Homo sapiens: one gene and its partners. The protein of the gene in region 1 interacts with the protein of each later gene in a pairwise test. Each region holds a gene or a part of one and is shown in the gene's direction. Other genes may lie near its edges.

Region 1 (3,633 bases):
AGTGTTGTGGATATGACTAAAAACACAGGAGTCAGATCTTCTTGGTTCAACTTCCTGCTTACTCCTTACCAGCTGTGTGTTTTTTGCAAGATTCTTCACCTCTGTGTGATTTAGCTTCCTCATCTATAAAATAATTCAGTGAATTAATGTACACAAAACATCTGGAAAACAAAAGCAAACAATATGTATTTTATAAGTGTTACTTATAGTTTTATAGTGAACTTTCTTGTGCAACATTTTTACAACTAGTGGAGAAAAATATTTCTTTAAATGAATACTTTTGATTTAAAAATCAGAGTGTAAAAATAAAACAGACTCCTTTGAAACTAGTTCTGTTAGAAGTTAATTGTGCACCTTTAATGGGCTCTGTTGCAATCCAACAGAGAAGTAGTTAAGTAAGTGGACTATGATGCCTTCTAGGGACCTCCTATAAATATGATATTGTGAAGCATGATTATAATAAGAACTAGATAACAGACAGGTGGAGACTCCACTATCTGAAGACGGTCAACCTAGATGAATGGTGTTCCATTTAGTAGTTGAGGAAGAACCCATGAGGTTTAGAAAGCAGACAAGCATGTGGCAAGTTCTGGAGTCAGTGGTAAAAATTAAAGAACCCAACTATTACTGTCACCTGATGATCTAATGGAGACTGTGGAGATGGGCTGCATTTTTTTAGTCTTTTCCAGAATGCCAAAATGTAAACACATATCTGTGTGTGTGTGTGTGTGTGTGTGTGTGTGCGTGTGTGTGAGAGAGAGAGAGAGACTGAAGTTTGTACAATTAGACATTTTATAAAATGTTTTCTGAAGGACAGTGGCTCACAATCTTAAGTTTCTAACATTGTACAATGTTGGGAGACTTTGTATACTTTATTTTCTCTTTAGCGTATTAAGGAATCTGAGATGTCCTACAGTAAAGAAATTTGCATTACATAGTTAAAATCAGGGTTATTCAAACTTTTTGATTATTGAAAACTTTCTTCATTAGTTACTAGGGTTGAATGAAACTAGTGTTCCACAGAAAACTATGGGAAATGTTGCTAGGCAGTAAGGACATGGTGATTTCAGCATGTGCAATATTTACAGCGATTGCACCCATGGACCACCCTGGCAGTAGTGAAATAACCAAAAATGCTGTCATAACTAGTATGGCTATGAGAAACACATTGGGATAAATCGGCTGCTATCATAATCATTCCTCTCCCACATCAGATAAATGAATTAACTTTTTGAATAGGGTTATTTAATATAAAGTGCTTAAGTCTAATTATGAGAAGAAATAAGATAATTACACTTCAATGGTTAAAGAGAGGGAGAATAATTTGCATATTATGCCTGATGTAAAATGTTTATTATGGGTACATATTAAGTGCTAACTAATTGTTAATTGTTCTTGCTACAAGTCTTAATGCAGGGAAACAAGAAATTATTACATAGTACCTAATATTATCTTCTAATATTAAAGAAACAATTTCCCCTAAATTCATCCCATTAGCTTTTTTTTTTTCGGTGGGGCAGGGGAGAAATACAGACTTCAGTAAACTTGGGCTGGGAACTTTCTACCTACAAAGTTCAAATAAAATAAATTATCCTAGTTAGATAATATCAATGAAAAATCCACCAACTTAAATCCTGGCTGTTTGATCTCAGGAAATTATTTCAGTTATCAACTTAATGCATCATATTATAGAAATATATGAAAATGTGTTTAATTAAACTTACTGAATGATATGTTTTTTCAGGTACTTTAAAAATAAACTATGATATAAAGTTACCTATTTTTCATGCAAGTATAGTATAAAGAAATTTCTAACACTGGAGATTTTCTGAAGGTTTTGATTCTTATAAATTTATTACATCATAATGAACAAAACTAATTTTCAACATATTATGATTTAAATTTCCTTAGTAAATTGTTTCAAATTTATTTTCTTTAAATCCATATTTACATATGTATATTTAAATATACATATTTACTTGTATAACAATTCAAAACCATATATTAATTTTATAATTTTGTTTAATGTCAAAGGTTAGATTTGGCTATATCTATTCTAAAAGTTGGTATCACATTTCCTTTTTGGAATTTTATTTTTAAAGTAGCTAAAGTCAAATATAAACCTATTATTTATATTAATGCAGACATTAGAGGTAGACACTAAATTCATTTTAGTATATTCTAAATTATTTATTATCTACTATGAAATAATATAAAGAAAAATAAAGCAGAATCCCTGATTTCAAAGAACTCAATTGCCGAAAAACAGTTACCATTTATTAGACCCAAAATGTACTAATATGAGTGTGTCTCTTTTCCTTTTGTTTTGTCACCCGTCATTTGGAATGTCAGTGAGTAGAGAGATAGTGTGAAAGGCCCTCAAGGGGAAAAATAGAGGTTAAAGGTCAGCAGAGACCCTACTAGAGAAATCAGTTCTACAGAAATGTTTTTAAATGTGTCGATTATTGCTACATGTACACTCTGTCATTTTGTAATGTAGCCATTTTATTTATGATTATAATAATAAAACAACAAAATTATAATAATGTGTAGAGTACATTTTACTGTGCAGTGTATTGCATTAAAACTAGATTAAAATTTATACATATATAAAAGGCTATCTAGATATTATAAAATTTATGGCTGGATCTGTAAAAAATTCAAAACCTATTTTTAATCTCGCTTTGAGATTTTATAACAAGAAAATGTTCGTTTCAAGCAAAATTTTCAATTCACGTCCTTGAAAAGGAAAAAAATGACAACTTGAAACACATAATTGACTATTTTTAAAGGATCAACATTTCAGAAATGTTTTAAAACATAAGATTTTCAGTACAGCTTTTCGCTGGCATTTAAATCGAACTTTGAATTGTAAATAGCTCTTGCTCTTAAGGAGACATCAGCCATATCCTTAGAAGTGGCACGGAGTTGTTAGGTAGTTGTACAAAATTCTAGCCTAAAAGACAAATAGGGAGCAACACTACTGTGGACCGTTTCTGGTCTTGGGCTGTGTGGCTATGTCAGGCTTGCCCACATTGCCTGTACTAAGGAGAAAGCCTCTTGTCCTTACAGACCCCCTTAGCTTACATAGTCTATTTGAAAACAAATTGCTTTGTCCACACCATTTAAATATTGGCTTCAGGCCAGGCGCGGTGGCTCACGCCTGTTATCCCAGCACTTTGGGAGGCTGAGGCGGGCAGATCACGAGGTCAGGAGATCGAGACCATCCTGGCTAACACGGTGAAACCCTGTCTCTACTAAAAATATAAAAAAATTAGCCGGGTGTGGTGGCGCGCACCTGTAGTCCCAGCTGCTGGGGAGGCTGAGGCAGGAGAATGGCCTGAACCCGGGAGTCGGAGTTTGCAGTGAGCCGACATCGTGCCACTGCACTCCAGCCTGGGTGACAGAGCAAGACTCCGTCTCAAAATAAATAAATAAATAAATAAATAAGTAAATATTGGCTTCTTCAACTGGTGAGATGAAACCTATACAATAGTCATGTGAATAGCACTAAACAGCTGACATGGTGTAACTCCTCTCAGACTGAGGCTTATCTGGGGAGTACAAAGCATGTCAAGAAAATGTGCCTTCATTTCCTTAGATGAGTGTCCCCATCCTCCACTCTCCTCCACT
Region 2 (3,633 bases), on another chromosome or scaffold:
CTTCTTTGTCCTAATGCCAGATCTGTAGTAGCACAAGGTTAGTTGGAAATTAAGTAAATCCATGTTGTAGCCTACACAGGTGATTTAGCCAAAAGCCTGCCACTTTTTTTCTCATCTACTCCGATGGTTGTAACTAACACCTATATGCTGATGACTCCTAAATCTACATCTCCAGCCCCGACCTCTCCCCCGAGCTCCAGGCCCGTATTTCCACCTGCCTACTGGACATCTCCACCTGGATGTCCCACAGGTACCTCAAACTCCACATGTCTGAAATGCAATTCATTTTCTATTTCTTTCTCCCCTCCCCACAAACCTGCTCTTTCTTCCCTAACCCATATTTCAGTTGACAATAGCACCATCCACCCAGTGGACAAGCAAGAAACACAGGAGTCATCCTGAATTTGTTCTTCCCATCCCCATATCCTGTTACTTATACCTCTTGATTTTTATTTCCTAATATGTCTCAGATCTGGCCTTTTCTATCTATCATCTTTGCCATGGCCTTAATGTAGGCTCTTCTCAACTCTCATCTGAACTATTGCAGATGTCACTCTACTTCTAATTTTACCCCCTTCCAATTGGTCCTGCACCTTGAAGCCAGAGGAACTTAACGTAGATTGCTTATCTGACACTTCACTGATTTCTCATTGCCTTTTTAGCAGAACATACAAAGATCTGGGTGCCTGCACCTACCTGCTCGCCTTGTCTCCTCAGTCTCTGTTTCCTTCTTTGTATGTTGTGTTCTGGCAGTGCCAGCAGCACAGAATTACGTGTAATTTTCCCAACACATCATGTGGTTTCATGCTTTCTTGCCTTTACTCATACTGCTTTTTCTGGCTCAAATGCCATTTCTCTCTTTGTCCAGTTGGTAAATTCCTCTTTGGCCTTCAAAACCCTGTTGAGGCTTTCTATCAGAAAATCCTTCTCTGACCTTACCCCAGGCTGAATGAATCACTTCTTCTGTACTACTTCTGGACCTTGTTTATGCCTCTAGTATTGCATGTATCACATTTTATTATAAATACTGGTTTTCTTGCCTCTCTTTTCTTCTAGACTGTGAGCTCTCTTGGGCAAGGTCTCTACTGTCATTATTAATGTCTAGAATAAATTGGTGCCTAATAACTGCTGGCTGAATGAATGATTAGCCTAACAATTCAGGCAAAAGGAAATGCGAGTTTCTACACAATTTGGATAGCTATGAGTCAGGAAATGTACTACATTGAAAGCGTAATAGAAGAGATGTTGATTTAGCCAATTAAGTAAAACAAAATCATTCATCAAAAGATTATAAATGTGAAATAAAAGAAGATCCTCTGAAATTTTCTGAAAGATACAAATATAGAAGAAGTTTCTATAGATCGATATATGCGTCTTCTGAATTTAGTGACTAGTGAAATTTTCTTCATTTTACTTTGAACTCTGTAGAAAAAGCCTTGGGCAAGCTTTTATCCTTTCTGCAGAATATTTTTTCATTATTTGAATGACTTGAGTGATTTTTACAGAGCCCATACCCCCCGAAAACACTATCATTTGATCATTCATTCATTCAGCAAACACTATTCTTTATTGTGTTGCTAACAAAATTATTAGAAGAAAAAGTTTGATTGTATTTTAGAATGTCTTCTGTCATGGTTGTAATTTGCATTTCTTCTTTTCATCTTCTAGTCTTTTCAGAGAAGACTGGGATGCCTTTCAGGTTGAAGGATCCAGTGAAAGTAGAAGGGCTTCAGTTCTGTGAGAACTGTTGTCAGTATGGCAACGTAGATGAGTGTCTTTCTGGAGGAAACTATTGCAGCCAGAATTGTGCTCGGCACATCAAAGATAAGTAGGTTTTTGCCCCATTCCATCTATAAATTGAGTTTTAGATTCCAAAGTCATGGTGCCTGAGAATATAGAAGTTTTATGCTCTCGGACATTGATCACCTATTGATACCTTTTTCCCAGAGACTTTTCCTTTAGGGCCACATGGGCCCTAACCCCTATATGGGACCTGGTGACGTCTGTCATGCCTGGTCTGAGTTGTATTACTAATATTCTGCCTGCAAAACAGCCTCTGCCTCTGCCTTCAGTCTTCCATTTCCATTCATTTGATTGTCTTCAGCTAAGAGTATTTAGTTTTTTCTGGGCTATATACACATTTCGATGACACTGACATTTATAGAAACATAGTTTTGTTTATATTTTGGGAATTCTTAGGTAACTCGGTTAAAACTCCACCTACGGCATAAAGCTTCCACTGATTCGTAATCAGCTGAATGGAAATGGCCATAGGGAAGAGTGTAGTGAGTTGGGTCACTGATGATCTCAAGGTGTGGACTGAGGATTATGAGACAGAGGCATCAGCTGTAACTGGTAGTGGTGTGTGACCTTCCCATTTGGGGACAGTCTGACAAAGTTCAGCTTATCACCAAGAAGGTGTTTTTCTTGCATATCATTGTATACTACAAAGAAATGACTGGACATTTATATTTTAGTGGCATTTCCCATGTATTTTAATCAGCACAGGCTTGGGAAATGTTTTCTTTTTCTTTTTTTTTTTTTGAGATGAAGTCTTGTTCTGTCGCCAGGCTGGAGTGCAGTGGCGTGATCTTGGCTCACTGCAACCTCCACATTCCCAGGTTCAAGCAATTCACCTGCCTCAGCCTCCCGAGTAGCTGGGACTACAGGCGCACGCCACCACACCCAGCTAGTTTTTTCTATTTTAGTAGAGACGGGGTTTCACCATGTTAGCCAGGATGGTCTCAATATCCTGACCTCATGATCCGCCTGCCTCAGCCTCCCGAAATGCTGGGATTAAAGGTGTGAGCCACTGCGCCCAACTGGAACTGTCTTGTTTTTCTTGGATAACTGATGTTTCACAATGTTACACTTAGCCTTTTTTCAATTGGATTTGTCATTCTTAATAACTGCTAGATCCTTCTTTGACCCTGAAAACAAATATCTCTAAATAATCAATTCTTTTATTAGTATAGATGGTAGATGTGACAGACAAATAACTTGTTAGAACCTATTTCATACATATTGCTGGCCCCCTTTTGAAATTAATATATAAGGTAATTTTCATTTTCTGCCCTGACAGACAGATGTCATATGTAATAGTTGTTTTCAGTGTTCCTGATATATGATATTCTCATGCCTACAGATTTCTCCTGGTAGTTAAAGATTTTTCCTTTGCAGGGTGATTTTTTTTTAATGATTGTTGCATTGATAATCAACAAGTAGATGTTTGATAGGTATTGTCTCTTGTCACTATTTTGGGTTTATAAACACAACAGAGATCAGAAGGAAGAAAGGGACGTAGAAGAAGACAATGAGGAAGAAGATCCTAAGTGTAGTCGGAAGAAAAAACCAAAATTATCTCTGAAAGCTGACACCAAGGAGGATGGAGAAGAGAGAGATGATGAAATGGTGAGTGCCTCTGCCTGACACCAGGAGCACAGGGATGCATCTTTAGTGGGTAGCATCACAGTCACAAGCACTGCTCTGGAGCCCACTGAGTTCAAATGTGGGTTCCAGGACTATCTGTGTTAGTGTCAGTAAGTTACATGGCCTCTGTGTGCCTTGCTGTCCTGATCTCAAAATGGGAATCATAAACAATAGTATCCTTCTCTCAGGGTGAAAAAGTGGGAT
Region 3 (3,633 bases), on another chromosome or scaffold:
ATACAACCAGTAAATGACTGGGTTTGTATTTGACTCCAAGACCATGCATCTCACCGTTATACACCTCTGGTACCAGCCACTGCTCTGTTACCCACTAGGAAGTTAACAGAAGGCCCGTAGTCATGGATCTTGGGCATATCATGGTAGTGGGCCCTTGATATTTCCTTTTAAAAATGATTTTCTTTTTCCAAGCTCTACTACAAATTTGAATTTTCCTTGCCGCAACTATGCGCCTTCTTCATTTCCTACGTCTCCGTTCAAGACCCACCTCTTCTTACGAGCTTGATGTGGCTACTCTCTCAACACCTGTGCTGTTTCTATGCCACAGAGCTAGTGTTTCCTTTGTACTGCCTCTCATTATGTACAGTTGTTTCGTGGTCCAAATTTTCTCTCATCAATGAGGACAGAATGACTTTCTTTTCATATTTCTTAATCAGATCACTGTGTCGTCCCTAGTGATCTGATACATAGTAGCTATTTATTATTTACTGATCAGTTTTAGTAGAGAAAATTTTTAGATAATCTTAACAACAGATATTTTGTCATTTTGTTTCTTATCCAGTGATACTGCTTAGCTGTTAATCATGTATTAATGTGACATACTTACCTGAAGATAATCAGAATATAAATTGTTGGGTTTGTTTATTTTTTTAACATCTGTTTTTGTCTGTCTCATTTTTAACTTGGCAGCCACACAACAGCCACTTAGTTTACCAGAAGGAGAAATCACCACGATTGAAATTCATCGGTCCAATCCTTACATTCAGTTAGGAATCAGCATTGTGGGTGGCAACGAAACACCTTTGATTAACATTGTCATCCAGGAGGTCTATCGGGATGGGGTCATTGCCAGAGACGGGAGACTTCTTGCTGGAGACCAGATTCTTCAGGTATCAGTTTTAATTATTCTGTTAACTTGTGCCTTTTTGTTCCATTCTTAACACTTAAACCTTAGAAAATTGTGCTGTTTTGGAACCTAAATTATATATAGATTAGTTTTACTGTTTCTATATGCAAAACATCAGAATTTATGTGTAATTTGTGGTATTTTCCCATATACACAGAGTATTTTTTCTTCCTATCTTAATTTTCATTCCTGCATGCGATGTGGCTTGGCACATGATCTCAGGCTTGCTGAGCTAGCTAGACTCTTCCTTGGGCTGACTAGCCTCTTCCTGCTTGGACTTCTTGAATGACTGTTCAAGGGTCACCTTCATCCATGTTGAAATTATCATCTCATTGGTATTATTTTATACCCAGTTTTCCCATTCATTACCTTCATTGTTGGATTTATCCTTTTCTATACAGACTACTAAAATCTAGAAAAGAAGGAACCATGCAGCACTCATAATTTATACCACAGATTATAAGATAGAGTTCAGAAATCTTGCAGTCATCTCCTATCAACTCCCTAATGCACTCTCCTCAGCAAACACTCTAACTCTGCATTTTCAATAATCCCCTTCGCTCCCCTTACTGTTTTCCCTTTCAGAAGATGATCTTTAAGAAGAAACAGGTATTCTCCAGAAATAACTAGCATGGGACAAGATATTTTATTAGAGGGCAAGTTGAGATGAGGGGAGGAGGATGGTAAGAGTTCTACAATCCCGGAGTTGATGTTAATACCGGCCTGGACCATTTTCATCATACAAAGGTGATAATAATTGAAGCTTAAAAACGGATAACTTCTAGGAGAGAGAGGAAATATTCATGAACAAGAAAAAATGTCTCCTGTCAACCCAAGCGCAGGGACTCCTCTCTCTCCTTGGATTTGTGGTTCGGTCCTTCACCATGACCTGTTGATATCTACCCCCTACTTCCATTTTCCTGCCACTTCTTGAGTCTAGGACTTCTCTTCTTCATATCTAATTTAGTAGAATACCCCATCATATACTTCTGCCTCCCAACTCTCCTCCCTTAAATCTGAAACAATCACTGCCAGGTTAATACATCAGTAACCCTGCTTGCCTTGCAAAGGTTCAACTAGGAGGTCAAGTCCAGACTGATTAATCTAATAGTCAGGGTCCTCCACGGTCTCTTCTACAACCTGTCTTGTTAATCTCAATTCTTCATTTCAGGCACACCAGCTCATTCATTTCTCACAACATTCTAGGCACTATACTAGTTGCTGGTGGTACATTTCAGAGCAAAATACTGACCTGTCCTCGTGGAATATACAATCTAGTGGAAGAGCCAGACATAGCAGTCTTCTTCCTTCCCTGCAAACACCTTATTCCCACATTGCAGCCTGTCCTCATCTCATGAGCCAGTTTGTTCACCTTCATCCTTAAAGCTTTTGTTCAGCCATTCTCCCCCATACTGATTCCTCCTACATTAGTTATTATTGGCATTCATCACTTTTCTCTTCATCACTTGGCACGTGATGAGTTACAGAGAATTGTTTGAACATTTTACGTATGTAGGCATGATCTAAGGTAATTGCAACCACCCTAATGGTACAGATTATGATACAGATTTCTCATAGCTTGTAGTAAGTGCTCAGAAAATATTTGCTGAGTCAATAAAAGAGTGAATTTGAATATAAGATGCTGTTGGGAATAGCCATCTCCTTTATTAAAAGAAAAACTTGGTTAGGATTTTTAGTTGTTGAAAAGAAATCTCTAGACTTGGGGCTATGGGAGTCTACAAAGGCAGCCAGGATTGACCCTACTAGGGATTCTTGGGTTTGATTTCCACTCCCGCTTGTATGCTGCTTTTCATGGTGTATTATTCCTGAAAATAATTAACACCAAGCCTAAAACCTTTCCTTCATTACCCCTAGGCATGGCTGAGACAGACTGAGCTTTCAAACAGTGTTTTTTTTACCAAATACTTAGATGTAATAGACGAATACAGGAACATAACTAATCCAGCTCATATAAAATCAGATTTCTGATCCTGTCATAGCTAGCTATTTAGTTATCCTAGCTGCATTTTATGATATTAGTACTTTAGCTGCACAGGCTGGCACAACTTGTAGGACCCCTTGTATTATTTACATCCTAGCTCCTGACTTGATTTTGCAGAGAGCGACTCTTACAGCTCATTTCCCAGGTTCATCCTCCCAGACATCTTGACACTTTGGTGGTCAGGACCAGGAAGGGCAGATAGTCCTTTTCTGCAGCCCACTGAGTGTTCTTTGACTCTCCCACTTCTGGGCTTTTTAGCTGAAATGTAAGTGTACACTTATTTTTTGCTACTAGCCCAGTATTGTTACAAATGTTTTTATTTATATTTCTTTGAATATAACAGATTTGTTTAAGTTTTTTTACTAATACATTTCATCAGTGGGCTTGTTTCTATTTTAGAGAATGGTTCATTAACACTACTGAATCTTTAGACCTCAAAAGATTGTAATTATCTGAAATTATCAACCATATTTTTGGGAATTAATTCAGTTATAAAGTCTACATTGTAGAAATTCCACTGCATTATTACTGTTTATGGAAACCTGTATACTAATAACTCCAATAATGGCAATCTTACATCTAGTTTAATGATTCAAATTGATAAGAAAAGTCTGAGCACATAATCTGATTAATGAATTCACAAAGGGTCTCTCCTATTATAGGCCCTGACTTCTGGTTGGCTTTTAACTGGTGTGTTGGAGCCAAGTAAAGCCACCCCCCTTTC
Region 4 (3,633 bases), on another chromosome or scaffold:
CTCAGAATACCTTCTTAGTTTCAACTTTTGTTGACAGATCTTTCTGAAAAGATCCATGTACAGTGTTTTAAAATCTCCTCAGGATAGACATTCTGAGTAAGGATTCTTATGTGGTGTAGATAAATTGTATCTTCTACATATACAAAGTGGCTGGGCTCAGAAATTCCTTTTCTTTGTTTTTGAGACAGGGTCTTGCTCTATCGCATAGGCTGGAGTGCAGTTGGGTAATCACTGCTCGCTGCAGCCTCTACCCTCCTGGCACAATCCATCTGCCCACCTTAGCCTCCAGAGTAGCTGGGACTAGAGGTGCCTGCCTCCATGCCCAGCTGATTTTTAAAAATTTTTTGCAGAAATAAGGTTTTACCATGTTGCCCAGGCTGGTCTTGATCTCCTGGGCTTAAACAATCTGCCCACCTTGGCCCCACAAGGTGCTGGGATTACAGGTGTGAGCCACCGTGCCCCGCCAGTTCTTTTTATGTTGTTGCAAATGTTCCTCTCTCCTTTTATTGTACTACTGAGGACATTCTTTCCTCATTTGCTTAATTTTTTCCCCCATAATTCTTCAAGAATCTTCGCTTTTCTCTGTTTGGGCTACCATTACGGGAGAGTTCTTGGTTAGTAACTAGGGTTAATTATTCATTCATTCTACAGATATTTGTTGAGTACCTTTTAAGTTCAAGATAAAGTTCTGAAATTGACGAGGCTGCATGTCTCAAAGGGCATGCCATAGAAATATTAATCCTATGAGATGTGTCGCAAAAAAAAAAAAAAAGGGTTCAGTGACCAAGTAAGTTATGGAAATGAGCATAGTCTGTTTCGTTGGAGATTTGCGGTATACCTTAATATGTTAAAGATGATGAGAAGTCCATTTCCCCAACTTTTTTCACCATGAGACTGTTTTCTTTCTTTTTTAAAGAGACTTTTATTTTCTACTGCTTGTTAACTTAATTTTGTGAATTACAAGGTACATATTTTGGAAAATAGAATTAAGTATAGAACTTGTCCTTATCAAATAGAGGGAGAGAAGGTGGATATATGATACTATACTCTTAAAAATAAGGTTATAAATGGTTTCAAAGAGGTCTAGATGTGCCATAGGTGTTGAGAGGATGGGAAGATTGCCTCTAGAAGAAAGAAAGGATTAGAAGGTGGCATTTGAATTACCTACAGAGGATAAATTAGATTTGAGTTTGTGGAACTGGATGGAGGGACTTTTCAGTAAAGCAGACAATAAAAGCTAAGACATAAAGGGAGGGTTGTAGGCCCTGGAGATAAGGGGAGCATTCATTTTGGCTGGAGTATATATAGCACACATAAAGAGGAAGAGTGGCATGTAAGGTAAATCGGGGTTTAATTTTGGAGGTCCTAAATGCCAGGATTAAAATTTCATTTTTTTTTCTTTCTGTAAATATAGGTTCCTTGATAATAGTGCTTGAGGTCAGGTAATTTGGCTATGATAGCAATGGCTGTTTGACTTCCAAATTAGAGTATGAATATTGAAGAACACCTTTTCCCACATTTATTTGTCTCTTAATTTTTCAAACTAAATTACAAAAGCTAGTTAAACAGAGTTGTTGAAAATGATGTCTCTTGTTCAATTAGCTAGCCAGGTATATACTAACGAACATGAGATACACAAGTAAGGAGCACCCCGTTACTGTCAAGGTGCTGAAATGCTATTTATTTTAACCATATTAGTTGTTAAGTGTTTATAGACCTTGGCTACCAATTGTAGTAACATGGATATGATAGAATGTATTCATTCTGCAAACGTTGAATGAATCTGTAGGCCAGACATTCCAGGTACTAGAGTTAAAAGATGTTGAGTTAAGCATCTGGTTGAGGAAGACAGACATGTTAATACATTAATACAGCGCAGTGGGAGTATAGAATCTTTTCCAGGGATTATTAGGAAAGGTTTCATTTAGTAATGGCATATAGAAATTGGATGTTGATGGATGAGTAGAGATTTTTCAGACAGGAGAAGGGCATTCCAAGGCAGAGACACAAGATGGCTCCAGTTTGTTGTAAGGTGAGGCAGTTGAGAAGAGTTAGGATGTGTATGTGCATATTTTAAGAATAGGGAGTGGTGGCAAGGCATTGAGACCATAGGAGTTCGAGGGCAGTTTTTTTGTTTTTTTGCTTTTTTTTTTTTTTTTTTTTTTTAGGCTGGAGTGCAGTGGCGTGATCTCAGCTCACTGTAACCTCTGCCTCTGGTTTCAAGCGATTCTCCTGCCTCAGCCTCCTGGGTAGCTGGGATTATAGGTGCCTGCCACCATGCCCAGCTAATTTTTTTATTTTTAGTAGAGATGGGCTTTCGCTGTGTTGGCCAGGCTGGTCTCGAACTCCTGACCTCATGATCGACCTGCCTCGGCCTCCCAAAGTGCTGGGATTACAAGCGTGAGCCACCGTGCCTGGCCAGTTTTTTTGTTTTTTGAGACAGGGTTTTGCTCTGTCACCCAGGCTGGAGTGCAGTAGTGTAATCACAGCTCACTGCAGCGTCGACCTCCTAGGCAAAAGCGATCCTCCCACCTCAGCCTCCTGAGTAGCTGGGACTACAGGCATGTGCCACCATGCTTGGCTAATTTTTTATTTTTTGTAGGGACGGGGTCTCATTGTATTGCCCAGGCTAGTCTCCAACTCCAGGACACAAGTGGTCCTCCCACCTAGGGCCTCCCAAGGTGCTGGGATTATAGGCATGAGCCACTGGGTCCAGCCTGGGGGAAGTTTTAAGAAGGCTTTTTATACCTCATGCAAGAGGGCTGACCTTACTTTTTTTGGGTAAGGGTCAGGGAGACAGACAATTTTAATGTTAGTGTGAAGAATGGCCTTCTATGGGGGAAGAAATTGTTAGCTGGGAAAATAGGGATCGTGGGCAACCTGACATAGTTCTTGTCATTTGGTAAGTGTTCCAGAATTATCTGTTGACTGATTAATCTGGCCAGATGAAAGTCTAACCTAATTCAATGGTGACAGAGAAGAAATTTGAAAAGAATTTTGGAGGAAGAATTAAAGGAATTTGATTACTGAGGAGTTAAAATTCCAAATTTGTAAACTTTGAAAAGTAGGTGGTTGGTGATTCATTAACTGTGACAGAGAAAATTAGAAGGACCCTTGCAGGGGGAAGAAATAATATATTCATTAAGTATATATATACACACACACATATATACGTATATATACACACACATATATATACATATATATATACATATATACTTAATGTATATATATACACTTATGTATATATGTATATATGTATATATACTTAATGTATAAATATATACATATATGTATATATATACTTAATATATGTGTATATATATACGTATATATATATACACACACACACACACACACACACACATATGTATTTACACTTTGAGTTTTTAGCAAGACATCCTGGTAAAGAAGTCCACAAGGCAAATGGAAATATGAATTAGTAACTCAGAAAGAGATCACAGTTAGACATAGCAGTTTAGGAAGTATCACTTTATGTGGGTGGTAATTTAGCCAGGAGGTGGAAGACATCTCTCAGCTCTGCCTCTTACTAGTTGTGTGATCTTGGCAAGTTACCCAACCTCTTTGTACCTCAGTTTTCTCATCTGTAAAATGGGGGAAATAATGGTATCT

The links. The genes of interacting proteins can lie anywhere in the genome.
Region 2: the proteins of SNCA (region 1) and L3MBTL3 interact in binary tests that used the Homo sapiens proteins (3 or more experiments, as listed by UniProt).
Region 3: the proteins of SNCA (region 1) and LNX2 interact in binary tests that used the Homo sapiens proteins (3 or more experiments, as listed by UniProt).
Region 4: the proteins of SNCA (region 1) and EXOC5 interact in binary tests that used the Homo sapiens proteins (3 or more experiments, as listed by UniProt).

Annotation. Positions count from the first base shown.
Region 1 is NC_000004.12:89,823,604-89,827,236, reverse strand, and holds part of SNCA (alpha-synuclein), read left to right. Parts: intron 1-3,633. UniProt on the Homo sapiens protein: Neuronal protein that plays several roles in synaptic activity such as regulation of synaptic vesicle trafficking and subsequent neurotransmitter release.
Region 2 is NC_000006.12:130,049,581-130,053,213, forward strand, and holds part of L3MBTL3 (lethal(3)malignant brain tumor-like protein 3), read left to right. Parts: intron 1-70; coding exon of another isoform or gene 71-175; coding exon 176-250; intron 251-1,668; coding exon 1,669-1,828; intron 1,829-3,278; coding exon 3,279-3,411; intron 3,412-3,633. UniProt on the Homo sapiens protein: Is a negative regulator of Notch target genes expression, required for RBPJ-mediated transcriptional repression. It recruits KDM1A to Notch-responsive elements and promotes KDM1A-mediated H3K4me demethylation.
Region 3 is NC_000013.11:27,564,897-27,568,529, reverse strand, and holds part of LNX2 (ligand of Numb protein X 2), read left to right. Parts: intron 1-690; coding exon 691-890; intron 891-3,633.
Region 4 is NC_000014.9:57,262,273-57,265,905, reverse strand, and holds part of EXOC5 (exocyst complex component 5), read left to right. Parts: intron 1-3,633. UniProt on the Homo sapiens protein: Component of the exocyst complex involved in the docking of exocytic vesicles with fusion sites on the plasma membrane.